Linked DNA regions of Homo sapiens. The protein of the gene in region 1 interacts with the protein of each later gene in a pairwise test. Each region holds a gene or a part of one and is shown on either strand. Other genes may lie near its edges.

The links.
Region 2: the proteins of AKAP19 (region 1) and RALGPS1 interact in a two-hybrid assay, tested with the Homo sapiens proteins (one large-scale study listed by BioGRID and IntAct).

The regions. Positions count from the first base shown.
Region 1 is NC_000002.12:190,183,656-190,187,480, reverse strand, and holds part of AKAP19 (small membrane A-kinase anchor protein), read right to left. Parts: intron 1-3,825.
Region 2 is NC_000009.12:126,920,957-126,924,781, reverse strand, and holds part of RALGPS1 (ras-specific guanine nucleotide-releasing factor RalGPS1), read right to left. Parts: intron 1-3,825.

The DNA.
Region 1 (3,825 bases):
TATCACAAAAAGGCCATAATTTGGACATGAGTTGGACCCAAACACAAAACCAGCAAAAAAAAAAAAAAAAAGTAACTTCTAAAATCTGCTGTGTAAACGAATAGGCTGCTAACTCCCCAGAAGTCCATCTTAAACACTGGATTAACAGGGATGGTTTATTTTACCATTGTCCCATTTTATGTCATATTCTTAAGCCTTTACACAGGTTTCTAAGATGCCTTATATCTCAAGTTATTGCTTAAAATTGGTCTCACCCTGAATTAATGTAAATATATAAAAAAACCATGTTGTGGTCTTTGAAAAAGTTTTATGCATATATATATAAAATGTCTTTCAAATTTCAGTGTAGATGTGATTAATAAAAATACCAATTCATTAAAACATAACTCGAGGTGGGCAGATCACCTGAGGTCAGGAGTTCAAGACCAGCCTGGCCAACATGGTGAAATGCCATCTCTACTAAAGATACAAAAATCAGCTGGGCATGGTAGCAGGTGCCTGTAATTCCAGCTACTCAGGAGACAGAGGCACAAGAATCACTTGAACCTGGGAGGCGGAAGTTGCAGTGAGCCATGGTCACGCCACTGCACTCCAGCCTGGGCGATAGAGTGAGACTCAGTCTCAAAAAAAATAAAAAATAAGTTTATAAAAAATACATATATCTCAGTTCCTAGTAACATATTTGTCATTATATGTTCTCTAATAATGGATACTAAGAATATACTTTCTTGTAGGGCTCCGTGAAAACTGGACAGTAAGTGGAGGTCTTTGTACTGGGAGTATTGAGAATCATTCACTTGGACTATAAATTCACAACAGGATCAAATGACATTGGTTAAACAGGCAAACAGAAATGGACATAATTTAAATGTAGTGTTCTTTGTCTTTCACCAAAAAGGAAAAGCTACAAAATACTGTATATATGACTTTGGTCAGTATGAAGGTCACCGAAAGAACACTACTGTAGGGACCTTAGAAACTGAGAAGTCGGTTTCATCCTTAGGCACTTAGAGCACACACACTGTACAGCTGGTCACTGACAGGATGGGCTCAGGATGACTCCATGTGGTCACACTTGGGGCCAAAATTTCTCAATAGAGAGGCAGAGAAAATAACATTGTTAAGAAATGAGACAATGTTTGAGATTCTAATAAACCTGAATAAAGCGGTATGGTATGATTTTATCTGTGAACTGGGCTCTACCTCAGTCATCTAAAAATTGTGATTTTGGTTGGGCATGGTGGCTCACGCCTGTAATCCCAGTGCTTTGGGAGGCCAAAGTGGGTGGATCACCTGAGGTCAGGAGTTCATGACCAGCCTGGCCAACATGGTGAAACCCCATCTCTACTAAAACTAAAAAAATCAGCCAGGTGTGGTGGCATATGCCTGTAATCCCAGCTACTAGGGAGGCTGAGGCAGCAGAATCGTTTGAACCTGGGAGGCAGAAGTTGCAGAGAGCCAAGATCGCACCACTGCACTCCAGCCTGGGCGACAGAGTGAAGACTCTGTCTCAAAAAAATAAAAATTGTGAATCTATATGTAAAGCATCTAGAACTTCCCTTGGAACGTGGAACATGTTCTGTGTTATTTCCATTTCTTATCTCTCCAGATTGTCTCCTAAAGCTACTAACATCTAATTATTAAGTGTTGTATTATATCTCCAGATTATAATTGAGGAAAGAGAATTATAATCTAAGAATGACAACAGTAATTTAGGATTTTGAACAATTAGATGATAGACTAACTGTTGAACAGGCGATAGATGTCTTAAGTCCAGGTATCAATACTTCATCTCATTTACCAGGTCCTCCAGGTAGAGGAAAAAAACCACACACATACACAAGCAGGTATTTCCCTAAGCCCTTCTGGGCTTCACTCTGGCTACCAGGTGGCTTCATCTGGCCACTCCTATTTATGGCCATGAATGTTGACCTTCAATCTGCAGCAATTCCTCCAGCACCATAATATAAATCCTCACAGAAAAATGAAAAGGAGCTCTGACCAACTAGTAAAGAAAATCTGATCTAGAACCTCTTCCCGCTTTATCATTTTGTTAAGTTGGTAGATAAGCCCCAAATTCTAACCACCTCCTCCAGTCACATTTCTTTTGCAAACTCCTGTGCATACGTGTGTTTAAATCTGTTCTATTTATGCCATTACTCTTTTATCAGTTTGATTCACAGGCCTTGGTCACAAACCTAAGAGGGTAGAGGACAGCTTTTTTCCTCCCCTACAAATTCAATTTCTATTAGTCTTTATGTAGTAAAACCACTTCATTTTAGAACAAGTAGGAGGCATAAATTAATAAAAGAGTGTTAAGTGCTGTGCACTGAATTAAATTCTAGGCAGCAGTATATGTAATTTTGAGCACTGAAAAGAATCATTACTCTGGTATAGAGACATGGAAGAACAGTGTTCAAATTCACTAGGACTCTAGGTCAGAGGACCAAGAAATTCAGAAAATTTTGCCATTTAAAGTTTCATAGTTCTTTCATGATCCATATACTCCACATCTTTACCTAAAGAGTTACTGTATGGTTCCTATTTTCTGTGGCCTAACAGTACAGTGTCTTGGGGGAAGAGAGGTACATTTAATGTAACCATTTTTTAAAGCCCTGTTTTTACCCAATGGACTTAATTTCTCACTAATACAAGGAAATTTCCTCTCCCATCAAGTGAGTCTCCTTGGCTCACCCATTCTCATTTCCTACTCCTAGTCCTCCTTTAAGTTGAAACACACCACCTCGCCTTTATCTCCACCCAGCACCCTTTCCCCTGTTCCTTACTTAAACCCAAGTACTATCTTTGAGGATAGGGGAAGCCGTATCTCCTTATTGCAGACTTCCTAGTCCTCCTCCCGCCCTTCCTCAGAATTCTGTTCTTGAACTGAAGTCTAGTCTTTAATTTATAAATGCTGTCTCCCCAAATGAGATTAGATATTCCTCAAGGGCAGGAGTTATTTTTTTCTTTATTTTGTACAGAACAGTTCTCTACATCAAGGCGATTAATGAATGCTTACTAAAGTTTTCCTATTTATCAACTATCCATGTGCCTATAGTATGTTAGATGTTGGGAAGAACACAGTGAAATTTACATAGTTCTGCCTCTTGCAGGCTGTTTACATGCAAAGACTACAAACTTGCAGTAGTGTTTGGGCCAGTGTTTTGTTGGGCCAATGCAGTGTTGAAACTGTTCTGAATTAGAATATTTCTAAGCTAGGCATTCACTCTTTGGGTCACATATCTGTTACTCCCTCCCATTCAGCTTCACTAATTTATGTTACCTTCAGCCCCTTGTGAAACACTCTTAATTTCACAACTTTTAACTTACAAGGAATAAATTCATTCTTAAAATACAAGGCTCTTCCCATGTGAGATACTGATTAGAGTTATTTACTACTGCCAAAACTTTTAACATTATAACACCATGAGTGGTTCTACTTCTCAACCACCGACTTAGTGCATGTTGTGCATAGTATACTTACTATATGGAAAGTATAGTAAGAAAGGCTCATTTTAAAATTCTCAAATCCAAGGATAGATAGCGTATTCTAATGAGAAAGAAAACAAAACTGCTCAGCAACATTTTGCTCCCTTAAAAGCAAATGATTTTCAAGCTGGAAAGTATGGAAACCTCACTAAGAGAGAACTAAGGTGCAAGCAGAAGAGGTCATTTTAAAATAGTCCATGCCTTCACATTCTGGTGAATTATATTCCAGGGTACCAAAAGAACCTGCAGATGTCAGCACAGAACTATTCTGACAACCTCTATAAAAACATGGAGAAGAAGGGCAGTCTCAAGAGACTAGAGATTCAAACAGAACTT
Region 2 (3,825 bases), on another chromosome or scaffold:
ACAAGAACTGCATGGATGGATGGATGGCCAGATGGGCTAGTAGGCAAGTAGTTACGGAGGACAGGGAAGAATAAGGAATAAGACTACCTTCAGTTATTGGTACAATCCTTTATCATCATCCAGCTCTCTTTGTTCTGACTTAAGCCTCATAACACAATCTCAGATATTAAAACTGGGGCTTTCCTACTGAAAAAGGATGCATGCACACCAAAGATATTCCTGTTTACATGGAAAGTGGGAGTCTCAAAGCAAATGGACACATTTGGCATTCTGACTTCATATTCATTGATCTTTCTATATACCAGGCTGCTTCTCTGTTCAACAAGTACTACTGGCTATATTGATAAAACTAGGTTCCAAGAATCTCTTAGTCCTTAAGAACCCCCTGAAATGATTATCATGTTAACAGACCACAACAGGCACTGTCTTTTCTTAACTAGCCACCAACACTGGACTAGATATTGGAGCTGTGGGCTAAGTCAAGTTTGCATCCTTTTCCTATACAGTCACACTGCAGATTCAACAAAGGCCCCTGAAGCAGACACTTTCATCTGGGATAAATGCTTCACCGTGGGCATGGTTTATTAGCAGCAGTATATGAACTGCAGGCAGCTGTTGAGAAACTGTTACATGCATATGGACATGTTCCAGTTCATGGGATTTGTCAGGTGGGGAATCAGGGCACTTCAGTATGAAACTCTAACAAAGCCTCCATCCTCATCTGGAAAGTGGAAAGAGTAGACTCAATGATTGGTAACCATCAGGATAGACGGACACTATATGTGATAAGCACAAAGGCCATAGTGATGCTCATTGCCAAAGTGTCCCATAGCAGATATAGCCAGAGATACATTAAAGAAATAAACTAACTGAAACAACAAGTATCTTCTGAAAACAGCAAAGGATGCTACATATCAATCAGCAAGTAACTTCTAATCTTACCAAAAAAGGTTGTCAGCCAGGTGTAGTGGCACTTGGGAGCTACTTGGGAGGCTGAGGCAGGAGGATCGCTTGAGGCCATGAGCTGAAGGCTGTAGTGTGCTATAATCGCACCTGTGAATAGCCACTGCACTCCAGCCCAGGTGACTCAGCAAGACTGTGTCTTCTCAACAAGAACACAAATTTTAACCCTAGTTACAAACTAATCATCACAGGTACCAAGCATTACTATACTTTAGCCATTTACAGGAAAGTTCAGTATTTTCTGACCCATAAGCATGAAACAAGACCTTAAACCCATCATTCCAAATTTAACTCAACTCCTCAAATTCAATTATCTGGAAACTGAAATATCTAAAACCAAGAAAAACTATTATAAGTACCTTTTTCCAATGAAGCCCTGTCACCTTATCTCACCTGCGACTTCTACAATGAGTGTGTCAGAAGCCACACCTTGAGGCAGCCAGGAGCATGAGAACAGGCACTTGAGGCGTTAGGACCCTCAGCTTCTCTCACAGCTACATCTTGGGCAATGTGTTTAACCTCTCTAAGCTTCCATTGTCTTCTATGCACATCAAAACCTGCCCTAGCTACCTGCAGAATCAACATAAGGCTGGAATAAAAAGTGTGAAGAGACCTTTTTAAGTGTTGTAAAGGGTTGAGATATTGTATAATGGACAGAACCTCCGATCTAACAACCTTCTCATTTTATAGATTCAGATCAGTCACTGGGAGCCCACTATTTACTCCATTTGTTCATCCAATAAACACTTAAGGAGCATCTACTACAGGCCGGATGCTAGGCTAGGCACTGAGGACCTGCTGGTGGGCAAAACAGTCACGGCCCATGACCTGATGGGACTGTACTGCACCAGGAGAGACAGACATATCCAGCAATTACCCTAGAAAGCATATTCTTACACCTCACCGGCCATGCTAATGATGTGGTCTTTTTTCTGACAGAAATTAGAAGCCACTGGAGGCTTTTAAGCAAAGGGAATGGCATGCTCAGACCATTCTGGCTGCCTTGTACCAGCCCTGGGGTAGGCCCTGAATACGCAAGAACAAATGTGGACTCTCACTCTGTAAAGTCTAGAGAAAGGTCATGAGGGAGTCACTGGTGGGCACAATTGTACTATATGCTAAGGCAGGGCACACAGTGAGAGAGTTGTGGGAGCCCAGTAGGAGAGCAATCTATAAATGCTAGTGGACTGAAAGTGTTAGAGATATGGTGCCTAGAAGGAAAAAATAAACAGATGCACAGAGGACTAATCCTCTCTGTAATTCCACATAACGAACTTTATGCCAGAGAAAGACACAGCAAATTGTCTTGAATCTATTAACTTGTTTTCCATAAATATTTAATTATTCAGAAATATGCCAAAAGCACAAACTTCCCTTGCCCTAGTTATCAGGCTTATACAACAGTGGGTGATAATTACTGTATCCAATAAACATGGACTTAAATACATTCCCTATTCTTCCTTTCATCTCAGATGATTTTAAAAGAAACCTATGATGTCAAGGCCAAAGATTCAAATTTTCTTCTGCTTACTCAAAAATTGACTTAACCTTAAAAAATAAATATTTAAATCCTGAAGAGGGAAAGTATCATGTTGTATTATCAGTTTATATTAAAGACCAATCATTTACACGGAATAATGGAATGATTAAACAGAAAGAACTTGAGAAGCAGCCCCCAGTTCCTAAATGGGCCTGAGACAAACGCGCCCAGAATGGCTCCGTCCTCTCCCTCACCAGTACCCTATGTCTTTGTGGGAGCTGAGGCTTGCCTCTGCAATCCCAGCGCAGGAAGAGTTCTGCCTGCCACCCTGGACATGCTTCCCAGCCCCCCATCACCAAGTACATGTGTGTTTTAACACATTGCTTGTGCAGTAACTCATATAACTTCCACAGACAATACATTAATACCCTGAGAAAAGCATCCTAAAAATCTTACTACCCTGGGTGAAAAGAGGACACTATTCTAGCTCCCACTTCCTGGGTGCTCACAATGTGCAAGCCCTCTGCTAAGCCCTATTTTGTAGCGTCTCCCTGAAACCCTGTACGAACCACACAAAGGCGCGTACTATCTCACCTCTTGTATCGATGAGGAAACAGAGGTATAGTCATTTGCTCAAAGCCACATGGCTTGTGAGTGATGGTGTCAGGACACAAACCCACATCTGTTTGTGTCCCAACTCCAGAGTCCGTGTTTTAAGCACTGCCCTATCTGCCTCTCTGATGCTCAGGAGATAAATCTCCTGCAAAGAAGAACACGACAGACTTGAAAGCTCTACAGAAAAACCAAGGAATTATTTGCTGTTCTGGGTCTTCAGGTCTCTGCGCTCCTCAGCAAGCACAGGTGAGACAAGTACAACTCATGCCTCTCCTTGGGGAGAAGTCATGGAATGATCAGTGCAGGTACTCAGACAAAGAAAAGGTGTTCACAATGATGACAGGTGAAATGTATCTTTCAGAAGAGCTCACGCAGAAAGTGGGGAGGAAACACTTACAGACAAGCCTATAGCCCTGGAGCCATAATATCAGCCACAGGGCTAGTGAGGAAGGTCCTGAGGACTCCTTGAGCGCTTGGTGACTTCAGAGTTGATCTCTCAGACGACTTGACCTTCACATTCAATACCTAACTTTCATCATGACCACGACACTATCACTAGGATCCTGAGAAACAGCTCAAGAGGTGCTTCTTGGTTCTCCCACAGCATCACGTATAATTACAATAGTGAGCACTCTGTAAGCATTAGCTTCCCAGCAGGCACTGTGCTAAACACTGCACTGCATTATTTCACTGAAATCTTCAACAGCCCTAAGTTAGGTAAAACTGCTATCCCCACTTTACCAAATCAGTAAACCAAGACTCAGAGC